4 linked regions of the Homo sapiens genome follow. The protein of the gene in region 4 interacts with the protein of the main gene of each other region in a pairwise test. Each region holds a gene or a part of one and is shown on either strand. Other genes may lie near its edges. The genes, in order: SCHIP1, BOLL, NOL4 and SYCE1L.

Evidence for each region.
Region 1: the proteins of SYCE1L (region 4) and SCHIP1 interact in a two-hybrid assay, tested with the Homo sapiens proteins (one large-scale study listed by BioGRID).
Region 2: the proteins of SYCE1L (region 4) and BOLL interact in a two-hybrid assay, tested with the Homo sapiens proteins (one large-scale study listed by BioGRID).
Region 3: the proteins of SYCE1L (region 4) and NOL4 interact in a two-hybrid assay, tested with the Homo sapiens proteins (one large-scale study listed by BioGRID).

What each region holds. Positions count from the first base shown.
Region 1 is NC_000003.12:159,895,051-159,897,955, reverse strand, and holds the end of SCHIP1 (schwannomin-interacting protein 1), read right to left. Parts: intron 1,234-2,905; coding exon 1,182-1,233; 3' UTR 597-1,181; downstream 1-596. Other genes in the region: IQCJ-SCHIP1 readthrough transcript protein, read right to left, coding at 1,182-1,233.
Region 2 is NC_000002.12:197,775,274-197,778,870, forward strand, and holds part of BOLL (protein boule-like), read right to left. Parts: intron 1,841-3,597; coding exon 1,786-1,840; intron 468-1,785; coding exon 392-467; intron 1-391. UniProt on the Homo sapiens protein: Probable RNA-binding protein, which may be required during spermatogenesis. May act by binding to the 3'-UTR of mRNAs and regulating their translation.
Region 3 is NC_000018.10:34,218,378-34,221,974, reverse strand, and holds part of NOL4 (nucleolar protein 4), read left to right. Parts: intron 1-3,597.
Region 4 is NC_000016.10:77,205,830-77,209,426, reverse strand, and holds part of SYCE1L (synaptonemal complex central element protein 1-like), read right to left. Parts: intron 2,987-3,597; coding exon 2,927-2,986; intron 1,218-2,926; coding exon 1,158-1,217; intron 963-1,157; coding exon 888-962; intron 331-887; coding exon 283-330; intron 11-282; coding exon 1-10. UniProt on the Homo sapiens protein: May be involved in meiosis.

The sequences.
Region 1 (2,905 bases), on a different chromosome or scaffold from region 4:
AGTGAAACCAGGTGGTTTGTGGGTGGCTCTGGAATGTTGAATTGTTCATCTTTGCTTTAGTTTATGGTTCCCTAATCACTACATGAACATTAGCTAATTAAATCTATTTTCTGAAACTCTCCACTTATTAAGAAACAGTCTGTAATCTGCTTTAGACTTGGAATCTTCTTTCATGAGACCAACAGAATGGCTAAAAATTTGAAAATAGCAACAATTGGCCTTGGAGAAAGAGTAAGTGTAAACATCATTTGTTCACGTGGTGAATTTACTAAATGGAGTTTGATACAATCATAGTGCCCTAACAAGACCAGCAGCTATTAAATACTAAAGTGCTAAAATTCCAGATGAATCTCTTTAAGCAATAATAGAAGTGCAGGCTCTGATGCTACTGACCTTTGGTGTTCTTCGGATCACTCTCTCACACACACATACTCACAGACACGCACTCACGCTCATAATTTTCTGGGCAATTTGCCACTTGTGTGTCCTCTGGAGCAATTTGTTTTTTCACTGATAAAAGTTTCCTGGTGGGGAATTTAGTTGCAGAAGGGTTAAGCCAGTATAAGCCTTGTTAGTGAGCAAAAAGACATATGATATGAAACAAAGTTTTAATTTTTATTTTACATATTTATACATAAAACTTTCAAGGAACCCTCTGAATCCAACAGAATGTTAATAGCACATCTAAAAAGGAACTTCAGGTAGTCAACATTCACAAAATGTTGAAAACTGAGTAAAATATACATATTACGGAGAGCTACAACTTCACTACGAGGCAGGCATGTATTTTTTGACTTGTATAGCACCGTCATTTACAGTTCTTCTTTAAAACTACAGTGAAGAATGAAAAGTAGTCAATGGGAAAATACTGTTCCAACTTAAAATCTCTAAACAAATAAAAATAAAGTTAAAACTACTCTCTTTTATTAACCATGATTTGTGGTGGTGTCAGTACTGTACATTTTTTGTAACAATATTTTATTAAAATGCCTGATATTAAGTGGCACAAGTAAAAAATTAAAATAAATTAAGAAGCAAAGGCCAATCACTGGACATTAAGCTTCAGACATTATCAATGACTAACACTGATATTTGTTTCTGCGCCACCTTTAGCAACAGCATTTTTACAACCACAGAAGCAAAATAAATTCTAGCTTGTTCTCTGGTTGAATGGCTTCTTTTCACTTTGCAGGCATTTTCTCTGCCATGTGCTTCTGCTGACTTTCAGCATGTCTGTAAAACAATTAATACAATTATTTAGCATCATGTAGAGAGATCCAAACTGCTTTTCAATCAATAGCTACAGCATCCTGCAAACTGAAGTTCAGAGTTACTGACAGTGAAATAGATTAGAATCAAGAAAAAGTACCTTATTCAAACTCTTTGAACTCTGATTTGAACTCTTTAATTTTTACATATTGTGTATGATTCCTTTTATTTAGTAAGCCACTGGATGAATCTGAGACTTTTAGACATTACTACTTTTAAGAAGAAAAGTTCTGTTTGAAAATGAAAATAAATAAACATCTGGGATACTTTTATCAACAAATATTAAATATGTGTCTTCCATGGGTATTTGATGGTGAGCAAGACAGTGAGGTCTCTGTTCTCATGGGGAATATGAGACAAGAAAGGAATAAATAGCAAATAAGGAAATAACAGATGGAAATAAGCACGAAGCCAAAAGTCGAAACATGGTATTATGATAAGAGTAACTGAGTGACTACTTTATCTAAAGACCCATGCAGACACAGACCTAGATATTAACTAAGACTCCTGACAGAAACCTGGAGCCAAAAATCTAATTCACTCCTGCAAAAGCCAATGTCTAACAAATGGCAGGTCTTTGTGGATGTAAAGATATTCCACGTTTGCATGTTTTTCCCCCCAATTAATCCTAAGGGCATGGTCTTGGCAGTGAGGATAGGGTGAGTCTTCTTATTTATAAAGCTCTATTATGGGCCAGGTCCAGTGGCTCACGCCTGTAATTCCAGCACTCTGGGAGGCTGAGGCTGGTGGATCACCTGAGGTCAGGAGTTTGAGACCAGCCTGGCCAACATGGCAAAACCCTGCCTTTACTAAAAATACAAAAATTAGCTGGGCATGGTGGTGTGCGCCTGTAATCCCAGCTATTCAGGAGGCTGAGGCAGGAAAATTGCTTGAACCCGGGAGGTGGAGGTTCCAGTGAGCCAAGATCATGCCATTGCACTCCAGCCTGGGTGACAAGAGTGAAACTCTGTCTCAAAGAACAAACAAACAAACAAACAACCAAAACCAAAAACAAGCTCTATTATGACCTGTGAACCCAAAAATAGGCCAGTGAAGCAGCTAGACAGTGGGGCAGAGGTAGACAGTGGGGCAGAGGGGGAGGAGTGTGGCCAAGCTGTTGACATCACTTGAATGGTCACTTCTCAGAGAATGATGGGGTTTGAAGGCTGCAAAAGACAATGGTTTTAAAGGACGATTTTAGGAAATGATAAATTTGGCAAGATAAAAACATCTAGGGCTGTGGTTTCCAGCTATAATCAAACGTTTAGGAATAGTTTGTGTGTGCTGCCTGGACTTGGGTAGTCAGTGATGTCAAGTTGAACTCACTGGTTTTATGCAGAATGTGTCATATCAGGGAAGACAAACTACAAATACTTTCAGAAACAGGGGAGTGACAACAGTGTCCTTGCTACACTCAGCAGCCCATAAATAAATGGAACTATTCAACTAACAATAAAGGTACTCAGGAAAAAGTACCTTATCGATAGCTCTCCATTCCTTAAAAAATCTGTCCCCTTTAGCAGACCATCTTATAGCCCTGTTGATGTGTAACAAGAATCAAACATTTTCGTGACTAACTCATATGCCTCACTTAAGCAAATCCAGATCAAGATATTTTGATGCCCAGTGAACTTGA
Region 2 (3,597 bases), on a different chromosome or scaffold from region 4:
TGTTTTCACTTTCAATATTTTTACTCTGATTAATTTTAAATTAGTTTCTAATTAAAATTTTTCTCATTAGTAAGTCTAAATTATTAAATTACTTCTAATTACTTTTGCTATATTAAATGATATTTTCATCACGAAAGATTTTTTTTCCTTTAATGATGTAACTACATGGAATATACTTAAGCATCTTTATGTATATAAATTTTTTCCCAGCCAAAAAAATTGAGATATATTATTTTGTGGCAAAAATATTCAGTTTTTCCACCAACTTTGCTAAAATAACTTTATTAGATGAAAGAAACATGATCTTTTAATAAAGTTCTATAAAAAGTCTTATATTTCAAAAAAGAACCATGCAAAAATATTTAAAAATACATTAGTTCTCAATACATACGAGGGATCCCTACTTGTTGTTTTCTTATTGCTGGACCAATGTTCAGCTTCTTATCCTTATAATTAAGTTTTTCAGCCTAAAATAAAGAAAAAAGAAATTATTTTATTATTTTAGCACTATTATTTATAAAATCAATAAGGAAAAACTAGTTAGAAAGAATTTCAAAAATTCAGACTATAATATTCTTTCAAAGCAGCAAGGAATAGTGGGAAAGAGCCGTCTTCAGACTGAAATAGATCTGGGTCTGACCGCAATTCCCCATTTTCTCCATTTGTAATACAGTCAATCCTCATTACTCATGGATTCTGTATTTGTGAATTTGCCTACTTGCTAAAATTTACTTGTAATCCTAAAATTAATATTTGTGGCAATTTTGAGGTTATTAGTGGACACGTGAAGAGCGGCGGAAAATTTGAGTAGCCTGATGCGCATGCTCCCAGTTGAGGTCAAATAAGGCGATATTCTTTCTTCTTGTTCCAGTGCTCATACTCTAAGAGAGAGCTTTCTATTTAGTGCCATGTTTTCTCCATTTTTGTGCTTTTTGTTGGTGATTTGGCTATTTAAAATGGCCCCCATGTGTATTGTTGAAGTGCTGGCTAGCACAAGAAGACTGTCATAGGCATTATGGAGAATATATATATTAGATGTGCTTAATTCAAGCATGAATTATAGTGCTATTGGCCATGGCTTCAATGTTAATGAACCAGTAATCTGTTATATATGATGCCTTTAAATGGAAAACCATATAAAACAAGGTTATATATTGATAGGTTGATGGCAATATTGTGACCAGAGGTTCTTGGGAACATTACCTTGTACTTCCCCTAGAAAGAGGAGTTCAGCATTTGCTAATTCAGTGTTCCTAGCAATGTTAGAGAACATAACTGCCACAAATAACAAGAATTGACTGTATTTGATTTTAATAACATACAATTCAAATTCTACTTTTTTTCTAAAAAAGTTAAATGTTATATTTGCCTTAACTTAAAGTTATTACACTGAATTGCTGGCTATAGGCTTTTTTTCTGTGAATATTCTTAGTTTATATAATGTTTTTCACAGGAGGGAAATCATCTCAGATAACCTCACTGTTGGAATCCACATTTGTAGTGTTTTTTAAACATTCAAAATGCTATTAACACTTCGCAAAAGATATATCCCCAAGTTCTTAATTTAAGTAAATAAAGCGAAACATTATATTACAGTTTCACAACCATACTTGTAGTGATTTTGGAATTTGCTCTTCTGCAGATTAAGTTTCCTAGAGACCAATGCCAATCTTAAGATGCAAACCTTTTTTAAAAAGCAGTTGATTATTGTATTTGAACCCCGAAAAGATTAGTTTCAAATACAAAATTTCCAGAAATGAAGTTAAATACACCAAAAGATCATACCTCTTGTAAAATTTTTTGTGCATCTTCTTGTGTTTCAAAAGTGACGAAACCATACCTAAATAAATGCATTAATTATTACTAATTAATCATTTTCTTAGAATGTTATATTAATTATATTAAAATGTTTAAAAATTTTGTTTTTAAATCATCGGCCACTGTAGGAGTAGGCATGTTTCTATGCTGCACTAGCATGGGAATCTTAGAAGAATCATTCACAGCCTAACACTGTCACTTTTAGTCAGGAACTAAAAGAAAAAAAACCCCTGAGATCTTGAAACAGCTTCAGCTCTCAGCTGTATGCAGGAAAGAAAAGCACAAGAGATTCATGCTGTTGCTTAAAAATTGGGGATGCAATAAATTTCAATCCAGAGCAATAATCTCCTTTTAAACTAATAGAAGTTTGGCTAAGAGAAATCAAAGTAGAAAAATAACTAAAAAATTTAAAATTTCAACACAATAAAATTTCTTATATTGGTGAATGACAATGTAAATGTATTATTTAATTATTATTATTAGCACATATAACTGATAATGTAATTATTAGTATATTCCCAAACAATATCAATTAAAAATATGTACAACCCAGATTTCACATCTGTTTTTCATACATAATTAACTTCAAGCACAATTCATATAATGTTGAAGATACAAATACACATAAATGATGTGCTCCATGTCCAAAAAGCCACAATAGGTAGAGAAAAAAGTAACAAAAGAAAGAAAAAATGTATCTCTCAAAACATAATTGCTATTTAGATAACTTAAGTAAACTCTTCTGAGTAATGCTAAATATCTTCACTATTTTCTTCAATTCATAATTACTGGATCATATACAAAGTTTCTTCTTTTAAACAAAGGAATTTCTCTTTATCTATTTGCCCAAACATTAAAAAGTTAAGGAATTAGTTTTACGCTATTTTTTTGGTAGAACACACACGCCACCCAGTGGAAAAGGCATAAAATACAGTTTACATTTACATTTCCATGTATGTTTTCCAATGATTAAAAAATGGTATTACCAAAACATAGCAAATTCTGTTAGTCAAACAAAAGAGGTAAATCTCACTTCACCTTAATATTGTTTGGCATTCTGAGGAAGTATCTCATCTGTTTATAAATAACCTTTCTGTAGAATCCCATCTCTTCCAGCATATCCATCTGTCGAATGTTGTTTCTCACCAATACCACCTCAATGGGTCCCTTTTCTTATGCCTATAAATATGTATGTCTCGTCTCTCTTTCAAGAAAGTAAATACAATACTTTACTGCCTTATCTATTTTCTTTTAACTTTGCAGTCCAACTCCTTAAGTGAGTGTACTATGTAAACTATCTTTTTCCTTTCTGAAATTTGGCTTTGTACACATAGCATTCCACTGAAACAGCTCTATACACATTTAAAGACACAGTCTATTACTTTCTTCTCAATTTTCATTATCATTGATATAGCAATTAAAAATCATTCTCACTAGAATTATATTTCTCATACTGGTCCCCTAATTAGGTCTCTGAGGCACAACCTACAGACATTTCTTGGTGTCAGCTGTTTTCAAATAAAGCTCTCTATGGCCTAAAGCAGGGATACAATTCCAAAAGAATCTGATTCCTTTTGCTTCTCATTCCTCAGCTAATGTACATCTGCTACTTACATTAAGTGCTTGCTGCCTACCACTGAATGGTCCCTCCACCCATGCAAGAATAACTTCTCAACAAATTAAGAAATATTACAGTGTCTCCTCCCTCCAAAATACACACACACACACACACACACACACAAGGAAATCAAAAGGTAGGAGGAAAGAAGAGGGCATGAT
Region 3 (3,597 bases), on a different chromosome or scaffold from region 4:
CTTTGTATTTTTGCCTCGCTTTGGGGTTTCTTGAGCATTTCTTCCTTTCCCCCCTCCTGTACTGGCAACTGTTTCCCGGTGCAGTATTCCTGGAGGATGCTAGAAAGGAGACGCTTTGAAAGCTATTCTATCTCTAATGGAGGTATATTATATTGAATTGAAAATATGTGCATGAAAAGTTTTTTTTAAAGCATTATTTGGAAGGGTCTTTTAGGTTTGGAAATCAGTTTATGGTTTCCTGAGATTAATTAGAAATAGTTGTTTGAAGGATGTATATTTATTTTAGAATTTATATAGAAATTGGGAACCAAAAGTAAAAGTGAAATGGAAACACATATAAAAGTTCTGTGGTGGTTTTTTTTTTTTTTTTAACAATGTACTATTGTTGGGAGATTTCTAAGAGTTGGACCTATAAAGGTGTCTTCTCCTTTAGCATGTGGCACTACTAAAGACAATGGTGAGATTATTGTCTGGCTTTCCTAAATAATGAGGACTAGATTGGCATGATTTAGAACTGAGGTTTATTTACATCTGGATGAGCCAGAAATCTGATATACAGAATGAAGTGCTTTGATTAATTTGTATTGGGAATAATATCAAGAAATGATGTAGAAAAATAATTTATTGTTAGAATTCAAAACATAAACATGCATTTTCCTTTGGACAAAACTGAGCTAACTGAATGGATAAAATCATTTAAGATATCTTTACTTAAGGTATTATTTCATAATATCATGTATGTTTTAAAGAAACACTGTTAGTTGGGAAGTTTATTTTTCATTCCTTTTATGTTAAACTTAGGTCCCTCTAACTGTCAGATAGCTTCACGTGGATATTGGTACAATGAGTTTATACTCATATGGATTTGACTACACCCACTATATGTGTTAACATATGTGTCCTTTTAAAGGATTGACTATTTTAAATAACATAAATTCTGAACAATTTTAGAGATACTAAGATCATCATAAATGTCAGTTATTCAAACTAGCATTCACGCATTCATATACCACTATTTTCAGTCAAAAATTTATGCAGAATAGCTAAAGAATTACTGCTAAGACATCTAGTATAGAGTGACAACTTCAGGGATAATATTAAAGTAACACGTGTTTATTCAGTAAAGATTCCATATATTTATGGGAGAGAATATAATTCATCAGGTGATTGTTAGATAATGGTTCTCATGTAGTATTTAAGAGCTCTGCTTTTCATTCAAGCCTGTTTTGAAATATTGAAGAGGTTTTTAATTTATGAACTCGTCTATTGCTCTTTATAAAATTTTTATACTGCTCCCGACATAGAATTATAGGCTCCTCCTTCTCTGAGAGACAGCCAATCATCATTTCAATGAGTTAAAAAATAAAGGATCCCCTTTTATCATGTGTTTCCCTACATTTCAAATTATTCCTTCCTTAATGATACATTGATTTTTCTTTCCGATGGTAGGAGTACAGTCACCAAGAAGACAAAAATATATTTTCTCTTAATTCCAAGGCATATATTGATCAAAATAAAATACTGTATTTGAATGGTATTTTCGTGCAGACTAAGAATCATTCTTAGCTGCTTGAGGTTTGAGGGTTCACGGCTGGCTTTGCTGTCAGTAAGAGATGCTTTGCTCCTGATGTTGCAGTAATCCACTGCTGCTGATAATTAGACATCATTACTACTGCGAAAAGGGAAAGAGAAAAGGGGAGAGGACAGGCTGAGGCTAATTATCTACTTTAGTTTAATGAAAGAAAGAGAGACTGATGGCACCTGGGAGGTTATACTAGAACAGAGTAGACACACCACATAGACTTAATTGAAACAAGACTATCTTTAAGTCTCATAGTTAAAGAAGCTTGGTTCTACTCTTATTTTCCCAAAAGAAATATAGCTTTCCAACTACTCTTCCCCCTAAAGCCTAAACTTAACTGATGATAAAATCGAGCAAGTTACAACTGACTTAAAATAAAAATATTGACTACTGGAAAGGATAAATATGTCCTTTAATATTTGTCCTGGTCATGTCTAAACCTGAGGGGACATATCTGCCACTGATGTTTAGACTGCTTTTTGATGGAGTAGATACTGTTTGGTCACCAAGCAACAACATCCGGCAACTCAGCCATTTTAGGTCTGGTGTGGGACCTGTGCTTTTGCGAGCCCGCCTGCACTGCACACTCACGCGCACGCGCATATGCAGTTTGTTGAGCAACCCATCTGCTTTTTAGATAGTACCACTGTTATTTTTATACATTCTTTCATTAAAAGTGTCAGAAATTTAGAAGAATGAAATGATGAATGACTTAAAACAGTTCCGAAAACGATATAGCAAATGGTTGACATTGATTACATCCAACTTTTAAGCAGCGATAGTTTTAAATTCACTTAACTATGGTAACTCTGTTTTACACATTTGGTAGTTCCAGTGTAGTTTGTTTTTAGAAGCTTTTGATCCTGATTAACGTTTTCTGGCAACAATTAGTGGAAACATCACACTTGCAGTTTAAACTACCAGAACACATTATACCATTTGATATTGTGAATGGTAAACTTAGAAAAGGAGAAAATTTATTAAACGCTCTTTTTAAAAAGTCCTCTGCATTGTATAAAACATTAGGAATTTGGTAAGCTCATGTTTTTGTCTTTCAGTATCAAGCAAAGAAAGTAATGAATATGAATATTGAAACTGTATAATCAAAAGATGTAATACTTTTCTTAACCTATATTTGTAGGAACAGACACAAAGGTCTAAATTATGCCTTTCTTATATATATTTCTTTCTTATATTTATTCCAATACAGGTCTTAAATGAATTTCCATCCAGAAAGGAAAATGCATTATCTTTAGTTGTGCTATTTACAAATGATGATTTATTCAGTTCTGCAATCTGTAGCCTCAGATTTCATATTGTTCTTGCTGTGCATACTACTAATTGATTACTGTACAGTGATTATAATGAATATTCATGGACTGACTCATAAACAGTAACTGTTTTTGTTATTTTTCTGACTGTGGTTTTGGTCATAAATCCTTTATGCTACATCAGAGTGAAAGAAATAATACCCCATGAGGAGTCCTGTATACCTTTCCACCTGGCCTAACTTTATGCCTAAGGCACCTATATTAGGCCTTGATCTGGAATCTGCTACAGACCCAGTTATTTATCATGATACTTTGTATCTATGACACAAAGACAAATCATCATAGTGGTCACTGAGATGGAAGCACATTTTTGCTTCTATAGTGGACATTGCTGTTGATAGCCCATGCATTTTTCTTTTCATTAAAGTACTTTGGGAGATCCTGTAGCATAGGATTTGGGGGTCAAATAGATCCCGAGAATGAATATCAGCAATGTGGCTTATTAGCTGACTTAGTGATTCTTTGTGGAGTTGTGAAGAATAAATCATCTATGACAAGTCCCCAGCATAGGTCAGCTCGCAGGGAACAGTGGGGACCAGTAGTAAAGGCCATTCTGGCTTGAGTATTAAGGGGCAGGAGATTTCCTCTGAATATAAAGAGGAAATATGACCCTGTTCGTGTATGAAGACTATCCCACACTTATTTCTTGAGATACCAGTTTTTTATTTTTCCGTTGGTTCTTCC
Region 4 (3,597 bases):
CTCAGTGCCTCTGTGGGGAAGGAACCAAGGGGACCCTTTGAGAGCTCTTGGGGAGTCAGGGTTGGCCAGAGGTAATAGGCCCCACATCATGTCAGGCATTGGAGGGCACTGTGAGGACTTGGGTGTTTACTCCAAGTGATGTAGCAATCCAGGAAGAGATCTGTGCAGAGAGGGAAGCACCCTGCCTTAGGTTTCAGTGGGATTCCTCTGGCTGCTCTGAGGAGCATAGACTTTTGTGGGGTGGAAGAGTAGAATAAGGAAGACACAGCAACTGGTAAATACCTTGCTTTTTGCCCAAGACCTCCTCTAGGTGCACTTTCTCTCCATTCACTGGAAAACACAATGACACTTTCTGCCTCCAGGCACCCCATTGCCATCCCCAGTGCAACTTCATATAAGGGGAAAGCCACACAGAAGGTGTAGTACAGCCCTAGGAGAGGTGAGGTATCTTCTTGCCACCCTTGCAACCATCTCCCAGAAGGACCATCCTGATCCAGCTTCTCCCCCTCTATGCCCACATTCTTTGTAAATGTTGAAGGAGTGAAGACCCTGAAGAATGTACAAGGTTTACACTGAGGAGAAAGATGGCTATAAAGAAATACACACACAGTGTCAGGTGGACATAAAGGCTCTTAAGAAACAAATCAGCCAGGGGCGTGAGAATGACCAAGAGAGGGCGGGATTCTATTCTTAGATGAGACCATCAAGATAGGCCTATCAGGGTGAAATTTGAGCTGAGAGCTGAAAGATGACATGAGACAGTGAAAGGCAATACAGATTATGTGAGCTAAGAGCATTGTAGGCCAGGGAGCAGCCTGTGCAAAGGCCCTGAGGTATGCACAGGAACATCTGCAGTGTTGATGGGTCCCTCTTTTGGCCCCACTTACAGGAGTCTAATTCCCTATGCAGGGCCTCCCAGAGACTGTGGGTCTCTCTCAGTTCCTCACTGGATTTCTTCTTTGCTGGGCCAAGAAGGGAAAAAGACACTGTATGAGTGTAGTCTCTAGCCTTGCTGTTCTCTCGCAAATATGACATTGCACAGTCATCTTCAAACAACCCTAGAGGGGCCTAGATTTTATAGATGAGGAGGTGGATTCATTATAAATCCAGTCACTTCCTGCTCGCCCCAGCTGGCCAGTCTAAGTCCCCAAGTTTACCTTGCTGAAGATCATTAATCCGGCTAATCAGGTCCTCTATCTGTGGCTCCAGGCTTCCCTCTGAAGAAAGAAAGGAAGAAAGAGTGAGCCAGAGAAGACTGGTGTCTGGCTGTCCAAGGCAGACGGAGAAGCACTGTGTCTGCTGCTATCAATTAACCGGCATATATTGAGCGCCTGCTGTGTGTTGAGCTCTGCCAGAGCCCCTTGAAGGGCTTGCATTCTGGGTTGGCAAGATGGACATTGAGCAAAGATAAATAAATCAATTCAGGTGGCAGTAACTGCTGTGAAGAGAAATAAAGTGAGGCAAAGTGTTGAAGAGCAAAAGGGTAAAAGGCATGTCTGGGGATATGCAAAGGCCCCAGATGAGAAGAAGGAAGCAGGTCCTGCAGTTCTGTGGGGGTAAAGAGTATGGAGGGGGGACCCATTCCAGGCAGAGTGCAACAAGGCAGAGGGAACAAGTGCAAATTCCCTGTAGTGTGGCAGGAGCGGGTGAGGCACGTGTCCAAAGTAACAGTGAGGGGCTGGTGTGGCTCAGGTCTAGTGAGCAAGTGGAGAGTAGCAGAAAGTAAGGTGGGGGAAGTGGGAAGTGATATCACTAGGGCCTCTTGGGCCACCGTGGAAGCCTTTAGATGTAACTCTGAGTGTGGTGTGAGCCAATGGAGACGTCCCATCTGCCCCGCCCTGTCAAAATCCAGGCAGGAAGGGTTGTCACTCTGTCAGTCTGGGCTCTGGTACTGGCCTCATCTGAGAAATGGGGAATCCCTGCTTTTACACTGTTGGTGGCAGCTTGCAAGTTTCCCAGTGACAGGGTGATCACTATCCCTTTAGGGAATCACCTCTAACTTCTCATAGCCCCTGTTTCAGTGCTCTGTACGCAGAAGACTTCCTTCTCATCCCTCTCTGGCTTCAAGGTTGCCAACACGGAACTGGGGCAAAAAGCTGTCCAACCCTTGCCAGATCTCACTGCTGACCCCTCAGACACTCTGGGGTTAATAAACTCAGACCATGGATTTTTCCAAGGTCACCAACTCCAGCTTCTGTGATTTCCAGGAGAGTGGGTGCTCTCCACGGTGCTGATTATGACTGACAGAAATCTCTGGGGGTCTTTGTTTTACTGGAAATGATCAGGTTGGATCACTGCATTTCTAGCCCTGCAATTTCTCTCCCTAATTTTACCGTAGGCAGCAGTCCCAGTGCACTTCTTCTGCAGGCAGCCACAGAATGGGAGCGGGGAGGCTGCTGCTTTTGTTTGGAATAGACTGACGTGATAGTATTTTAAGATGAGAATGGGCTGGGGGTCTCACCTCTGGCCAGCACTGCCTCAGCTCTGATGTAGATACTGGGTGCACACTGGCTCCCAGGTTTCCCGCAAAAAGCAAAGCAAGGTGCAAAACCAACTGCATTTCCATTTGTGTGTAAAAAGGGAGGACAAAAAATATACATCCATGAATGCATTTTTTAAAAATCTCTGGAAAGATACTTAAGAATTGAAAAACAATAGCTGCTTGCCCATGAGTCAGGGAAATAGATGACTGGTGTGTGGGGGGAGGGAGTAGGGATGGCGGGGGAACTGGTTTTTCCATTCCTTTAAACTTCTTGAATTTTGAACTGTGGGACTGTATTCTTGGTTCAAAGAATTAAACTGTATAAGAGGGAGAAAGTGCAATGGGATAATTTCCTGAGGTTGTGAGTTCAGGGGGCTGAATTTGTACCATGTCTTTCTGACTTGAAACCCCAGGCTGAGGCTCAGAAACAAAGAGACACATGACCTTTCTGCAGCTTTATCACCATTGCCAGCAAGTCTTCAGTCTTCAAAGACTTGGCTTGCCCTGTAGAAAGGAAAATCAAAATTACAGGACACAGCGAGAGTGAGAGGGGAGAGAGAAGGGAGGCAGGAAGTCCCAGTGGGCTCTGCAGACACCCGTGGGCTGGGGCTAAGGATGGAATGACAGACAGGTTTCCATCTGAAGCAGGGCCCCCGTCTCTTGCCCTTGAGGTTTATAGTGTGTGCTAGATAAATCAGGACCCCTAAGGGTCAGCTTCTCCCTGAGGGGTTAAAAAACACCACCACAAACATCCCCTTAATGAAACTCAGGGGTGAGAGAAGAGAATGCATGTTTGCTGATGCTGCTGTTCAAGATCATTATGAAGTTCTAACCAGAACAATAGGGCAGGAAGATTTCATATGAATTTCTTTGAAATAATAATAGCTCATAATTTATAAATTCTTAATGAACTGATAGATCTAGGTAATAGTTACTAATGGCTACTAACATCAAAAAAAGACAACTGGATATTATGAGCCTCTCTCTTTTTCTTTTTATACCCTGCAGCTCCAGCTCAAAGGATTTTTATTTTTATTTTTAATATAGAGAGTTTGTTTCAGCTAAGTTTGAGGACTGCAGCTCAGGATGCACTTACAAGCTGCCTTGGGGAGTGC